Regions from separate parts of the Homo sapiens genome. Here region 1 is linked to region 2. A link means that fine-mapping ties the variant in region 2 to the expression of a gene that starts in the linked region. Tissue or cell type: whole blood. Region 2 holds a variant in brackets; the other region holds the start of a gene. All regions are shown on one strand. Distances are between the middles of the regions.

Evidence for each region. PIP is the estimated chance that this variant, and not a neighbour inherited with it, causes the effect.
Region 1: it holds the start of TMEM220, and the variant in region 2 is fine-mapped to the expression of TMEM220 in whole blood (INTERVAL, PIP above 0.99).

The regions. Positions count from the first base shown.
Region 1 is chr17:10,725,542-10,733,644 of GRCh38, reverse strand. TMEM220 (transmembrane protein 220) reads left to right here and starts at 3,622. Exons shown (of 6, transcript NM_001004313.3): 1 at 3,622-3,865; 2 at 4,585-4,614; 3 at 7,381-7,441. The coding sequence starts at 3,794. It overlaps TMEM220-AS1 (TMEM220 antisense RNA 1), which reads right to left and starts at 3,868. Exons shown (of 4, transcript NR_073458.1): 1 at 3,745-3,868. RefSeq lists enhancers at 2,997-3,583, 3,584-4,170 and silencers at 3,564-3,803, 3,814-3,983.
Region 2 is chr17:10,669,018-10,677,120 of GRCh38, reverse strand. It overlaps SCO1 (synthesis of cytochrome C oxidase 1), which reads left to right. Exons shown (of 6, transcript NM_004589.4): 6 at 1-4,647. It also overlaps a transcript of MYH3 not described here. Among named protein-coding and RNA genes, the nearest start is that of MYH3, 16 kb to the right of the region's middle. The variant AAAAG/G (reference allele first, on the strand shown) is at 4,119.

The DNA.
Region 1 (8,103 bases), 57 kb before region 2:
GAGCCTGTGAAATTTTCAACCCACATAAGCCCCAAAGAGGTTGGCCCGACCAAGAAATGTGAGTGTCCACATCTGGTGGAGCAAAGCACTCTCTCCAGTCTGTGTGAGGATGGACTTGGTCTACGCTTGCCTTTCAGATGACCTAACTTGAAGCCTCCAAGCCCATCAATCCTCCTTTGCTGACATTCTTCTTTTACGTACTTTCATGCATTCATTTTCTCTCTCTCAATCCTGTGACCCTGGGAGGCCATTTGTGTCTTTATATGAGCTTCCTGTCTCTGCTCCAACTCTTAGCATTGGATTAACAACCCTACTCTCAGGGAATAAGCAAGCACCTCTATTTCCAAGTTCTCAGAGGGCAGATGTCCAGCCATTCTCGGATTCCAGCGGGGAAGTGAGTCCAGCTCACCTCACTCCTGTGGCTCAATTGCTTTTATGATGCTGTCACTGACTGGGCAGCCAGGGAGTGTCCAGCAGGATGAAGGGTCCTTTGTGCTGCCCTTTCTGCAGAGGGAAGCCAGCTTTGACAAGACCCTACTGCCTTTAAAACCTCATCTTCTCTGCAGTATTGTATCATAGCCTTTTGCTAAAAAGGGAAATGAAATTACTCTTCAAGCAGAGCTGTCTGAGATATTGGATTCATTTAAACGTATTTTTCATTACTTTTCAGACTAAGCCTTCTCTTCCGTGTCTCTGCAAAGCCTGGACAAACCTATAGCAGGAGGTTTGCAAGGATTTCACACATTGCCTTAACTATTGAATCATGACTTTACAAGTCATCATTCTTTGTTGCAAATTACAAAAACCCAATTCACACGGGCTTATGTAAAGAAGAGACTCTGTTGGTTGTGAGATTCTTCCATTTTCAGGCATGGCTGGATCCAGGCTTTTAAACTTCACCTGCAGAAAGCCTTTCTCCCTGTGAGGCTTTCTCCTGACAGCTCCAGGCTCACATTCTACCAGCTCTACACATTCATCACAAAGAAAGCTTCTCTTTAATAGTGTGAGTAGGATTGCCAGATTTAGCAAATATTTGGAACACATCATTGATGATCCAAAATTCAGTTCAACTGAGGTTGTCCTTTACTGACAACCTAAGTCCCATATAGGTCCTAGGATTGAATCTGGGCAATTTGGATCCTATACCCATCCTAGACCCAATCACAGTGGTCAACAGAATGGGATATGTCAGCTGGCAGGCCAAAGTCACCTGCCTATCCCCAAAAGGAGGGGAGCACGGTCAACCCTGTAGTCCACATCCACCCATAGTGCATGTGGTAATCCACAGTACTAAAGACACTGATCCTCGAAGAAAGGGGACTGAACCCTGCAAAGGCAAAACCAACAGACGCTCACTAAGGTGACTTTGAAAGTCCCAGCCGGGTGCAGTGGCTCATGCCTGTAATCCCAGCACTGTGGGAGGCCGAGGCAGGCAGATCATGAGGTCAGGAATTCGAGACCAGCCTGGCCAATATGGTGAAACTCCATCTCTACTAAAAAAAATACAAAAATTAGCCCAGCATGGTGGTGGGCGCCTGTAGTCCCAGCTACTCTGGAGGCTGAGGCAGGAGAATCACTTGAACCCAGGAGGCAGAGGTTGCAGTGAGCTGAGATCGTGCCACTGCACTCCAGCCTGGGCAACAGAGCAAGACTTTGTCTCAAAAAAATAGAAATAAAAAAAGAAAGTCCCAGACAACAGTGAAAACTATAAAACTTCATGGTGGTTGTATGGCATTCAAGAGCTTAAAAGCACTTCCATGCCATTGTTTCCTTGTGGGTATTATAATCATTCCCTGTATTAATTTGCTAGGACTGTCCCAACAAAGTACCACAGTCTAGGTGGCTTAAACAACGGAAATTTATTTTCTCACAGTTCTGGAGGCTGGAAGTCCAAATTCAGGATGTTGGTAGGGTTGGTTTCTCATGAGGCCTCTCCCCTTGGCTTGCAGACGGCCGTCTTCTCCCTGTGTGCCCATGTGGTCTTCCCTCTGTAACTGTCCCCTCTTCGTATCAGGACACTAGTCATATTGGATTAGGGTCCACCCTATAACCTCATTTTAACTTAATCATCTCTGTCAAGTCCCTGTCTGCAAATGCAGTCCCATTTTGAGGCACTGGGGGTTAGGGCTTCAGCATATGAATTGGGGGTGCAGGGGGAATGCAAGTCAGCCCCTAGCACTCTCGCTCTCATTTTTTTCTTTTATGTAAGGAAAAGCACAGTGAGAATAGTCTTCGCTTGTTTCCAATCCCAGGGCTGATTTAGCTGTGGAACTCCACCCAGTGCTGGTCCCCGCTGTCCCCACCCCACCTCTGCAAACACGGGTGCCCACCCCCGCCAGCCGCCAGGCTCCCTGCCTAGTCCCGGCACGGGACCTTCACGGTCCCAGCACCAGGCACAGAGCAGACAACGTTCTTGAAATAAGTGTTTCGTGAAAAGAATGAAACTGAGAGGGAAAGAAAAAAAAAACTAGACAGTTTTAGGAGATTTAGCTCAAAGGAAAAGAGGACAGGCACAGAAGCTCCTGATTTGAAGCGATAAAGACTCTTTAGAACAGCAGAAATGAGGCCTATGGATGTGTAAATGAGCCCGGGGAGGAACTAAGCAGAAGGGCGAATTACAAAACAGAAAAAGACCAGACAGACTAGGGGAGAACAGTGAATATTTCAGTGTCTTCGGTTCATAAGAAATTCATGAGCAATTTTGGAAATTTTGTTGGTTTTGGTGGTGGGAGAGAATTGTAAATATGTATAATATGTAAATATCTTTTATAATAAAAGCCCATGAAGATAAATGAGCCTGTCTGCCGAAAAGCTGTGAGCCGTATAAGATGTTAATATAACTGTCGTCACTCTAGAAATTACCATAATGCTTACAGGGATTTGAAAGTTCCTGAGCTTTGGAAGGAAATGCATAAATACTAAACAGAACACACACACACACACACACACACACACACACACACACACACACATCTCTTTTTCTTTCTCTTTCTTATTTTTGTAAAAACAATTTTTATCCTTTTTTTTTTGAGGAGTCTCGCTTTGTTGCCCAGGCTGGAGTGCAGTGGCACAATCTGGGCTCACTGCAACCTCCGCCGCCCGGGTTCAAGCAATTCTCCTGCCTCAGCCTCCTGAGTAGCTGGGATTACAGGCTCCCGCCACCACGCCCGACTAATTTTTTCGTATTTTTAGTAGAGATACGGGGTTTCACCATGTTGGCCAGGCTGCTTTCGAACTCCTGACCTCAGGTGATCCGCCCACCTCGGCCTCCCACAGTGCTGGGATTACAGGCGTGAGCCACTGCGCCCAGCCCTTTCTTTCCTTCTTTCTTTTTCTTTCTTTCTCTTTCTTCCTCTCTCCCCTCCCGCCTGCCTTCCTTCCTTTTTTCCTTCTTTTTTTTCTTTCTTCTTTTTTTTTTTTTTTGTGAGGAAGGTAGCTTTAGTGAAAACAGGGTTTGGAGTTGAACCTATACGGGTTCAAATTCGACTTCCGTCCACCACCGAGACCTGCGCTCCCTGAGGGACTCGCTTTCCCATCCGCGAAACCAGGACGGCGCCGCCTACACCCCGCGGCGTTCGGGGCGGGCTGAATGGGTCGCTGAGTGGGGGCTACACCCACGCCCTTCGCTCCCCGCCCCCGGGCGGAGCGACGGCCACGGCAGTGTCCCCAAGGCACCGAAACCGAGGCGGGGGTCTCGGTCCCTCCGCGCAAGGAGGAAGGCGGACCGTACGTGGCAGGACTCACCGCCCCGCACGTGGCAGGACTCACCGCCCCGCGCCGTGTTCTCCGAGCCATGGCGCCAGCGCTGTGGCGGGCCTGCAACGGACTCATGGCCGCCTTCTTCGCGCTGGCGGCCTTGGTGCAGGTCAGGCGGCCGCGGTGGGAGGGGGACCCGCCCGGCTCCCAGCTCCGCCCCCTGGCCTAGCGGGCCGTGTAACTGACTAGCGGGCAGAGTCGCAGGGGCGCACAGTTAGTGGGGAGGACGGGACTTGGGCTTTCTGCTTGGGGAGCCCCCACTTTCTCCCCCGTCTAAGAGACGCGGATGTGTTCATGGAAGCGAGTCCCATACCAGGGCTCACACCCTGGAAGGGGCTGGTTCCGCGCGTGGAACTTCCCAGGGGACCTCAGAAGAAGCGGCCCTGGCTCCTGCGTTAACGTCCGGCCCGCGGACGACACTGAACATATCTCAGGGCCTAGGAGACGAAGCCGACCAAAACCCTTTATAGCATCATTAAACTTTTTAGTCGGCTTGGGGACCCCCTTCATAATCATTTCCCTCATTTCTTGAGACTGGTGGGGGTGGAGGGCCCTTAAAATACCCGTTCTGGGTTGGCGAGTCCTCTCCAGAGCTCCCGTGAAGGCTTTTCAAAAATGTGTGGCTGCCTGTTAAAAACATCTGTTGTGTCAGCCAGAAACCCCTTCACCCGTCCTCATCTGGACTATATCCTGTTCAGATTTTGTACCCTCGATGCCTATTGCAGTGTCTGGCACTTAACAAATTAATAAAAAATGTGCTTAAATGAATTTAAAAGGAATGGAACAGCACAGGATGTCTGCTAACACCTTGGTATTCTGGCGTTCCAGGTAAATGACCCAGATGCAGAGGTGTGGGTGGTGAGTATGAGCCGCTTCCAGGCTTTCCTCCGTTTGGAAGAATTGGGGAACGGCACAAAACACACGGTTTTATGTCTTTACCCCTCCTCCCTGCTTAATTTTCTGAGAAACTTAAAAATCAAACCCTTGGGAAGCGCTTTTTCCTAAAATATTAATAGGCAGGATCAGAGTTCTAATGTAATGTGTGTGTGAATTTCGAACTTTCTGGAAACAGGTCTTTCTGCAGTATTCCCTTTGGTTAGATGGCCCAACTGAGGACTTTCTTGAGGACCTAGAGTAGGCCTCTCAAGATCAGTTGAACAATTCCTTATGAGTTTCTAGCCAGACACTCAATGCAAACCTTTGACCGGAAAATAACAGGCTTAAGTTCTGAGGTTCTGCTAATTCAGTGACTTATATTTCTAGAAAGTATTAACTCCTGGCTGGGCAAGGTGGCTCACGCCTGCAATCTCAGCACTCTGGGAGGCCAAGGCGGGTGGATCACTTGAGGTCAGGAGTTCTAGATCAGCCTGAGCAACATGGTGAAACCCCGTCTCCACCAAAAAATACAAAAATTAGCCAGGCGTGGTGGCATGCGCCTGTAGTCCCCAGCTACTAGGGAAGCTGAAGCAGGAGACTCGCTGGAACCCAGGAGGCAGAAGTTGCAGTGTGCTGAGATCGTGCCACTGCACTCCAGTCTGGGCGACAGAGTGAGACTCCATCTCAAAAAAAAAAAAGCAAAGAAAAAAAAGAAAAAAAAAAAGCAAAGAAAAGTATTAAATCCTGTAAAACCTACAGTCTTCATATAAGCAAGGCTCTGATTTGAACCATTTGGAGGAGGGGGCCATTGTTCCATACATCTTCTAAATATCTTTTTTTTTTTTTCTTTTTGAGACGGAGTTTTGCTCTTGTTGCCCAGGCTGGAGTGCAATGGCGCAATCTAGGCTCACCGCAACCTCTACCTCCCAGGTTTGAGTGATTCTTCTGCCTCAGTGTCCCAAGTAACTGGGATTACAGGCATGCGCCACCACACCCAGCTAATTTTGTATTTTTAGTAGAGACAGGGTTTCTCCATGTTGGTCAAGCTGGTCTTGAACTCTCGACCTCAGGTGATCCACCTGCCTCAGCCTCCCAAAGTGCTGGGATTACAGACATGAGTCACCGCGCCCGGCTCTAAATATCTTTTATCTTCCAAAATATCTGAATTTTGCCCAGTTTCTCTCAATATAGATACACAAGACTGTACAGTACACCAAGGAGATGACTCTTAAGCTTTAGAATAATATTGACAGAGGAGCAACAAGGATGATGGTATCTGGAATTATAACATGAAATTCTATCCAGGTTTTGTTTTTTTAGTGCAGTAAAACCACATTCTGATATTTACTATCCAGATCAGTATGCCTCTGAATCAAATCAAACTGCCTTTGCCTTGGCACCCTGGTCCGTATCTTGAATTCCAAATATTATTTCCCTGCAGACAAGTCTCAGACATCCAGCTTAATGGTGAATTTCCAAAAGACTGCTGCGTATATTCACCTGCATGTCACACTGCTCCTCAGATATGCCCAAGGACCTACCTAGCATCTTTCCCTCCAAAATCTACTTATCCTGACTCACCCATTTCTGTTATCAGCAGAATCATTCTCTGAGTCATTCTTGTTCAGAATCTCAGTCATCTTTATCATCTCTCTGTTCCTTACCACTGCCTTGGAGAGCCCCTCAAAACACAAAATAAATTTGAGTCGGGCATGGTGGCAGGCATCCGTAGTCCCAGTTACTCAAGAGGCTGAGGCAGGAGGCTCACTTGAGCCCAGGAGTTCGAGGCCAGCCTGTGCAACATAGCGAGACCCCCCCCATCTCCAAAAAATTAATTAAACAATCGAGGTCTAATTGCTTATCTCTATAGTACCTGCACATTTTACCTTTCATTCATGCTCAGACGATATAATAGGAGGAATAGACCCCATGTCCCCATAGACATCCTCCCTCATTCACAGTTCAGCCCTCCACTACCTCCCACATGGACCCCTGGCACCTGCCTTAACATCTTCTGATATAAGCACAGAAATTGATGTGATTAGACAGCTACATTGTTTGGAAAGTCCCCATCCTTCTTATAAACCCACCCTCCCTACTTATTCCCTGCCAACAACACACACAATAGTAAGTTTGGCTAGAGCCTGCTTGTTATGAACAAGGCTTAGGAATAGGGCCTCTTTAGGGCTAGTCTTCTCATTTCCAAACACTTATCAGCAGTTCCAAAATGAAGAGCCTGACCTTATTACTGGGCACAGCTGATTGTGTATGCATTATTAGAAAACTTTCTGTGGTCTCACAGAGATGCAGTACTGGCCTGGATGGTCCATTGGGTCCAAAGCCAGCAGGGCCATCTAGCATCGTGGCTGCTCCTGCCCTACTTTTCAAAGAACATTTTCTTTTATGCAAGTGGGGAAAGGCCATTTGGGCATGAAAGTTGCTTGGGAGCGACTGGAAAGTTAGTGTGTCTTAAGACCAAAACCCTGTGCTCAGTGTTAGAGCTCAAAGATAAATGAGCTTCTGGAATAGCCTATAGTCTAGGAGGAAGGTAGATAAAATTGCAGGCAGACGTGCTAAGTGCCACAAAAGGAGAATCTACCACTTTCTCAATCACCATTGAAACTTAGAGGCAAATCATGGGGCACAGCAGCCACTGATCTCATCTTTCTTTACTTCCTGTATCTCTGAACATCTCATATATTGGGCATACATCTTAACTCATGTAATTTCCTCCCTTTTTGCTAACAGGTGGTGTACACAATCCCTGCAGTACTGACCCTGCTTGTTGGACTTAACCCTGAAGTCACAGGTATAAGCCTTGCATTCTAAATGGAGAGACAGCAAATCAGATTTCCTCATAATAATGAGGGTCTATCTGCCCAACTCCCAGGAGTAAAACGGGGCTCTCTAGGCCTTTCTTCTCATTTCTGATAATAAAAGGGGCTAATTCTAATCATCCTTACCCATCTTCAGGAAAACGTCAGAAGGATCTGCTATAAAACAGCGTCTTCTGTTTTATAGAAGTGAGAGGACAGATTCTTCTTCACTTTCTTTAAAACAGTTTCTCCTAGTGGGGCTCGAATGTTCTCAGGGGCCTTAGAATAAAGACTAATGAGTCCCACCTTAGTGGGGAAAATTCTAGTTCCCTAGATGCCTGGGCTCCTTGTATAGGCAGCTAGAACTCCGTCTGCATCTTTAAGGTAGATCAGTTAGGGCTCCTTTAGATACAAGCTAGAAAATAACTCAAATGTGCTATGAGCTGAGAAGAAAAGGTATTGGTACAGTTTACTGAAAAGGTGAAGGGTGGTGCTGGCTTCAGACTGGTGGACTCGGAACTTTACCTTCTCTCCACCTCTCAGTTCCACCATCTGTCATGCTAACTTCACTCTTGGGCTCCACACAGTGGCCCTGCAGCCCCCCATTCACATCTTCACGATGCCACGTCCAGTGGAATATGGACTGTGTTTCTTC
Region 2 (8,103 bases):
TGGTCAGGCTGGTCTCGAACTCTCAACCTCAGGTGATCCGCCCGCCTTGGCCTCCCAAAGTGCTGGGATTACACGCGTGAGCCACTGCGCCCGGCCTAGTTTGTGCTTTTTACTTACCAGTTAGGGGTTATATTACTGTGTAACAAAATGGACGGTTATTTCTATTCATTAACAAGATTCAAGTAATAGCCTCTTTAGCCACATATTCCTTAATAACACCTTTAGACCTTATAGGGGTAATTATTTTCTATATACTTTTCCAATGTATTTGAAAGTTTGTTGGCTCTTCTTCCGTAATTATACTATATCCTCAGTAAAGAAAGTTTGGCATACAGAAAAGTTGAAGGAAGAAAATTTTCAATCACTGTTGTTCCACTACCAAGAAATAATACTTGGAGGTATTTCCTTTCAATCTTCAACATGAGGATGCTAATGTCCCCCTCATAAGGGGCCTTAAAGTCACTGACTCTGTGCACTATTTCATGAGAACATTGATGTGGGTATTTAACCGAAAGAAAACTTGAGTTTTCTTTTTTTCCTTTTTATTGTGAAAATTTGGAAACTTATTCAAAAAGTAGAATAGTTAACTAATTGATGTACCCATCAGCAAGCTTCAGTGATTACCACCATTTAATTTTGTCTGCACCCCCCCACCCACTGCCACCCCAGCCCATTCCCAGCATGTGCCTCTGAAAGAGACCAACTTTGTCCTTTAAAAACAACCACAGTTGGCTGGGCACGGTGGCTCATGCCTGTAATCCCAGTACTTTGGGAAGCAAAGGCGGGTGGATCACCTGAGGTTGAGAGTTCGAGACTGGCCTGACCAACATGGAGAAACCCGTCTCTACTAAAAATACCAAAGTTAGCCGGGCGTGGTGGCGGGTGCCTGTAATCCCAGCTACTCGGGAGGCTGAGGTAGGAGAATCGTGTGAATCTGGGAGGCGGAGGTTGCAGTGAGCCGAGATCACGCCACTGCACTCCAGCCTGGGCAACAAGAGTTGTCTCAAAAAACAAAAAAGAAAGAAAGAAAAAAACAACCACAGTTTCATCAGCACAGCAAAAAGGTTTTTGTTTTTGCTCTTGGATTTTGTCGTTTGGTTTTTGCTTAATATCAAATATCCAGTCAGTGTAAACTCGTTTATAATTTGGTCCTTTGATTTCAAGGAGCTATGATGCAGTTCGTTGTGGGGATGTGTTGTCTCCATGTCATACATGTGACTTTGTCCATGTTTGCACCCAGTTCAAGGAAGACACAACCCTAGGGAAAGACAACCCTCCCCGCCAAGCCTCTCTTCCCATTCTTAAACATAGGGTGGCGTTATTCAGGTTGGACCAGTTTAAAAAGACTAACGCATTTGTCCTCGTTGTTGGGTGTTTTTTTTCTTTAAATTTGTAAAACAGGAATAATTGTGTTAGGATGAAGTATGATACTAGGAGAACAGGGAAAACTAACCCATCGTGTTAAAAGTCAGAATAGTGCTTAACTCTGGCAGGAGGTGAGATGGTTAGTAATTCAGAAGGGGGTGCCAGGAGAGCTTCCAGAGCCATTGAAATGTTCAGTAGCTTGATCTGGGTGATGATTTACATACATAAAAACATATTAAACTTTGAACTTAAGATTTATGCCTTTTACTGTTTGCACCCTATAACTCCAAAAGAAAAGTAGAGGGGAAAAAGAGTCCCTGCAAAAGGCAGTCTTGAAAGAAAGCAAGTCTGTGATGTGGAGAATGCATTGGACAGCTCTCAGCAATTTGCTGTAGCTTGGGCAGAGAGATAAAAGCTAATGCCAGCATCAGGTTGCCCAGGCGAGAGAAGGCCTGAAAGAAGACAGCGTGGAGAAAGTGTCAGCAAGCTTCAGCAACAGCAGGAGGCAGATGGTAGGAGAGTGGGCCTCAGGTGTGGTGTGGCAGAGCAGAGTAGCCACACTTAGGCCCCAGAGACAGTGTCTTCTCACCCTCAGTTGAAGGGGCAGGAAATCAATCGCTCTAGTCACCCCTAAGCTGGAGGACGGACCTAAAGTTGCCACAGCTTTGAGAGGCAAAGAAGTTTGCTCAGTGGCTTTTAGAGACTTCTAGGGCCCTGGGACCCTGACACTGAGGAGGAGCAAACTGAAGGGGAGAGTGGGCACATTCCTTGTTGGCTGCTGTGGTGAGCAGCAGCTGGTCGTTGTCAGTCAAGCTCCGGACCACTCTGATGATGCTCACTGCATTTTGATGGAGTAAGCCAGGGACATTACCACTGTGTTTGAGCCATCTGAAGTATTCCTGGGTGGGTCTGCAGTTGGCAGCCCGTGATCCTTTTTCCATTCAAGGATGATGCAAAGGTAAGGGGCCAAGGCTGAGCTCTGTAGATGCCTGTGAGAGCCTCCTGGTCTCAAGAGGTCATACCAAGGGCCTTGGCCACCAAGGTTTCGTGAGGACCTTGAGGTGGTTTCGCCATCACAATGTCAGACGTGTCACACACCATCTGGTATGTCCTCACTGTATAGAGGAAGAAGGGCCCAAGTGGTGAATTATCTACAAGTTTGTAGCAAAGCTAATACTCAGACTCCCTCTACAGCCTTGCTACTCAGTGTAGTCTGTGGTCCGGCAGTGTCACACCACTGGGGTACTTAGCAGAAATGCAGCTTCTCAGGCTCCACTCCAGCTCTCCTCAATCACAGTCTGTTTTTTTGTTTGTTTGTTTGTTTGTTTTGAGATGGAGTTTCGCTCTTGTTGCCTAGGCTGGAGAGCAGTGGTGCGATCTTGGCTCACTGCAACCTCCACCTCCCTGGTTCAAGTGATTCTGCTGCCTCAGCCTCCCAAGTAGCTGGGATTACAGGCGCCCGCCACCATGCCCGGTGGCGTGCATGGTAATTTTTGTATTTTTAGTAGAAACAGGATCTCGCCATGTTGGCCAGGCTGGTCTTGAACTCCTGACCTCAGGTGATCCACCCGCCTTGGCCTCCCAAAGTACTGGGGATTACAGATGTGAGCCACCACGCCTGGCCCACAGTCTGTATTTTAACAAGATCCCCACCTCAGTCTTAGGCACATGGATTCTCCTCAACCCCCAATACCACAGAGTCTATTAATTTTTACCCAATAGGGAAGGGGAAAAAGTCAAGAAAGAATAATGAATTAAGTAATCTTTCCCCCTCCAGGAAGCTCTTTATTTAATTTCGCTCCCATGAAACACAATTTGAAGAGTCTCTCAAATAAACAAATTCCATTTTCTGATAATTATTTAATTGCCCCACTTTTGAAATTTTTGTCAAAGACGACTGTCACTCCCTGTCAGAACTTCTATTCAGCACAGTATACCAAGCGTTTCTCCATCGAGTTGTTATAATATGATCAAAAAGCAGGGAGAGATGCTGCTTGGTTACCCTGTGGGGCCTTATCGGGGCTCAGTGCAGTCTTTCCATGTAGGCATTCTCAAATACTCAATTGAAACCTGATTGAGGATCATTTGATCTCTGTTGGCCCTAGTGCAGTAGGCTGCTGAGAACCACTGATGCAATAGACTGAGAGACTAACTGCCTGCTTCCCTGTCAGCCCAGGCTCTGCTAAGGCCGTCTTAGTTACAGAAGAAAGTGGGGCAGAGAGCCCTGCAAGGATTACATTCCATTCCTAACGGAGACAGGCAAGCGTTCAGTGCCCGAAGCAGGGCAGGCCTTTGTATGGCTCACTTTTCCCTGTACCAGCCTCAGCCCCGTACATTCAGAAAGCCCTGTCGGGAACGTGCGGGATCACAGCACAAGACAGTCATTCACTGATTGATTGACGACGTCAACATTGCGGAATACCTATGTTAAGCTGAGTACGAGGGATATAAAAAGTAGGCCCTGGAGAGTGCCTCTGGGATGCACATAACCAGACAAGATAAAGAAAAGGCAGATCACGAGATCAAGAGATCGAGATCATCCTGGCCAACATGGTGAAACCCCATCTCTACTAAAATTACAAAAATCAGCTAGACGTGGTGGCGGGCGCCTGTAGTCCCAGCTACTCAGGAGGCTGAGGCAGGAGAATCGCTTGAACCCGGGAGGCAGAGATTGCACTGAGCTGAGGTCATGCCACTGCACTCCAGCCTGGCAACAGGGCAAGACTCCATCTCAAAAAAAAAAAAAAAGAAAA[AAAAG/G]AAAAATTAGGGCAGCTTTTAGACATGAGGCCCCAAAGTGCCAACTAGTGCACCTAAACTTCAACTCTCTTTTGAGTGTTTTATGTATCTACTCAGCATCCAGTTGTAAATATGCAAAAATCAATGCCTACTGTATTTAAAAATTACTAAATTCACAATAACCACACAGAATCTATAATAAATAGAATCAATGTAATAATGACTCAGATCCAGGGGAAGAAAATTATAAAATTTTGGAAAAAATGATGAGCTATTAATTAAGAAAATAGTTTGTTCCTTGGTGAGAAGACTCAATGTAAATATGTCAGTTTTCTCCTGACTTAAGTCTTCAACACAGGCCTAATAATATTGCAGTGGCAAATGATTGCCAGGGGCAGGAGGGGATTTGGGGAAGTGGTAAAAATGATCTGTGTCTTGGTAGTGGTCGCTGCACAACTGCATACATCTGTGAAAACTCACTGAACTGCGCACTTTAAAAGGGTGAATTGTAATATACATACCTCAATAAACCTTACTTAAAAATTACAGTGTCTTTTTTTTTTGTAGCTCAACAGAAAGATTCTGAGATTTGGAAAAATAAATGTGAAAAATAAGACCAAGGAGGAAAGACCTGCCTTATCAATAGTAATCTATATTGCTGAGCCATAATACTTTTTTTAAAGTGTAGTACTTATGTAGCATTTAACAGAAAGATCCAGTTGGAAATAAAAGTATGGAATAGATCCATATTATGTAAAACGTTACTATGTAACAAAGATAGTATGATGATCAAGATTATTAAAAATATTGGAACAGTGATTAATGAAATGAAACAAGTTAGGTTCTTAGTCTGTGTCCTCCTTTAAAATGAACATGAGTTTTACAATACCCACTGCCTCCTCCCTTTCTTTCTCTGGAGGTTCAGAATGAGCCTGTTTTTGTAACCACCAAAGTCAGACTAAAATAGTAGGGATGGTTTTTGTAAGCATGACAGCAAAGGCAGAAAGCATAAAGTAAACCATTACTAGGCTTGATCAAAAATATATAACAAAGAGTTACTATCACCGATATATAAGCAGTGTTTACAAATTCATAAGGAAATAAAAGATGAACACCCTGGCTGGGCGCGGGTGTTCCCACCCTGGGATTACAGGTGCTCACGCCTGTAATCCCAGCACATTGGGAGGCTGAGGCGGGCGGATCACAAGGTCAGGAGATCGAGACCATCCTGGCTAACACAGTGAAACCCTGTCTCTACTAAAAATACAAAAAATTAGCCGGGCGTGGTGGCCGGTGCCTATAGTCCCAGCTACTCAGGAGGCTGAGGCAGGAGAATGGCATGAACCCGGGAGGCGGAGCTTGCAGTGAGCCGAGATCACACCACTGCACTCCAGCCTGGGCGACAAGAGCTAGACTCTGTCTCAAAAAAAAAAAAAAAAAAAAAAAATGACCCTGAGAAAAAGCAGGGCAAAGGACACAAACAGCTTCAGAAAAGAGGAATACAAATAGTTAATAATTTAATTCAAACAGTGGAATTTTTGTCTCAGTTTGACAAAACACTAAAAGAATGATGTTACCCATTGAGGATGGGGGTAAAATGGACTCTCACATGGAAAGCGATGGAATGTGAAGTGTGGCAGTCTTTCTGGGTAGCAATTTGTTGATATACAGCAAGCCAGCTATTCCATCTTTATGCATTTATTAACAGAATCATAGATATGCACAAGAATTTGTTCACTGCAGTATTTTTGTAATAATCATGGAAATAGTAAATAATGGAAAACAACCTAGATGCCCAACTCTAGGGCATCCATAAGATACAGCAGAGGCCGGGCATGGTGGCTCACGCCTGTAATCCCAGCACTTTAGGAGCCAAGGCGGGCGGATCACCTGAGGTCAGGAGTTCGAGACCAGTTTGGCCAACATGGTGAAACTCCGTCTCTACTAAAAGTACAAAAAAAATTAGCTGGGCGTGGTGGTGCGTGCCTGTAGTCCCAGCTACTCAGGGAGGCTGAGGCAGGAGAATCACTTGAATCCAGGGGCTGGAGGTTGCAGTGAGCCAAGATCGCGCCACTGCACTCCAGCCTGGGTGACAGAGGAAGACTCCATCTCAAAAAACAAGCAGACAAAAACAATTACAGCAGATAAAACAGTGGTACATTCATAAGTGGGGTACCGTAGAACCATTAAAATAGAGCTATTGATTAATATTTAATGATCTGAAAAGATATCCAATATGTACTTTGAGCAAGTAAGCCGTAGAAGTTTGATCCCATTGTTTGCATAAGCACAAAAAATACCCAAACCTTAACAGGCATTAATAATAGTGGTGTGTTTGTGGATGGCTTTTTATTTTCCACATCTTCCTAAATGAACATATATTAACTTTGCAGTAAGAAAGAGTCATTATTAATTGGGCACTGTGGCATGTGCTTGCAATCCCAGCTACTAGGGAGGCTGAACTAGGAGGACTGCTTGAGCCCCAGAGTTCAAAACAAGCCTGGGCAACACAGTGAGACCCCCATCTCAAACAAGCAAACAAACAAAACACTGTAAATTTCACTTGGAGAAACTGACAGTGAAAAAAAAGATCATTAGGAAAAATAGTCTAGTGTCAGTAAGATAGTTTATCTCTGGGTCAATTTCAGTCAAGTCATTTGCTTCCTACAATACAGCACTAAGTATGATTATGAAGCCGTGGCCAGGCTCAAATGTTGGGTGCTGTGATCCACTGATGATGCCTGCAGGGGTTGTGGGTAAAAGTAGTATCTCCCTTGACCTACTACTCTTTGGCCATGGAACAGAAATGCTGGAGTTTATTGTTGCAGTGTGTGCTTGATTGCTTTTGGTTGGAGAGAGGCATTTCGGAACTCAAGCCTATGAAGGAAATGTTGTTGGTAATGTACTGTCATGGACATTCCCCCTGGAGAATGTCACACGTGGGACTGATAACCCAGCTGCCTCTGCCTCCCCACCTTCAACATACATACACGCTTTGAGATAAAGCCAGTGCTTTGGTCCAAGTAAATCTCTCTTGTGCCTTAAATCACAGAATCAGAAGATAGCAGAGCTGAAGATGATTTTTTATTTTATTTTCTTTATTCCTTTTGAGACAGGGTCTCAGTCTGTCACCCAGGCTGGAGTGCAGTGGTGCAGTCGTGGCTCACTGCAGCCTCAAATTCCCAGGCTCAAGCAATCCTCTCACCTCAGCGTCTGGAGTAGCTAGGACTACAGGCACATACCACCACGCCCAGCTGATTTTTTTGTTTTTTATTTTTTGTAGAGATGGGGTCTGGCTATGTTGCCAGGGCTGGTCTTAAATTCCTGGGCTCAAGAGACCCTCCCATCTCGGCCTCCGAAAGTGTTGGGATTACAGGCGCAAGCCACCGTGCCCAACCTGAAGATGACTTAAGAGGTCATTTAGTTCAACTCCTCTTTTTTTTTTTTTTTTTTGAGATGGACTCTCACTCTGTCACCCAGACTGGAGGGCAATGGCGTGGTCTCAGCTCAGTACAACCTCCATCTCCCAGGTTCAAGCGATTCTCCTGCCTCAGCCTTCCTGCCTCAGCCTCCTGAGTAGCTGGGATTACAGGCGCCAGCCACCATGCCTGGCTAATTTTTGTATTTTTAGTAGAGATGGGGTTTCACCATGTTGGCCAGGCTGGTCTCGAACTCCTGACCTCAAGTGATCTGCCTGCCTGGGCCTCCCAAAGTTCTGGGATTACAGGTGTGAGCCACCGCACCCGGCCTCAACTCCACTTTTTTGGTAAGAGAGGAGGAAATTGAGGCCCAAATATTTAAGAAATTTTAATTTGTATAGGGAAAATTATTTGTCCTGTAATCCTAAAAGATGCTATTAGGGCTCACATCCCTGCGGGGCAGCAGGACATCCTGGGACATGAGGTCTTCCCACAGCCCTGTTGCCCTGGGCAAACATTCCCCACTGAGTCATAGTTTCCCCATCAATCAAGTGGGGATAATTCCACCTGCTCTGCCTAACCC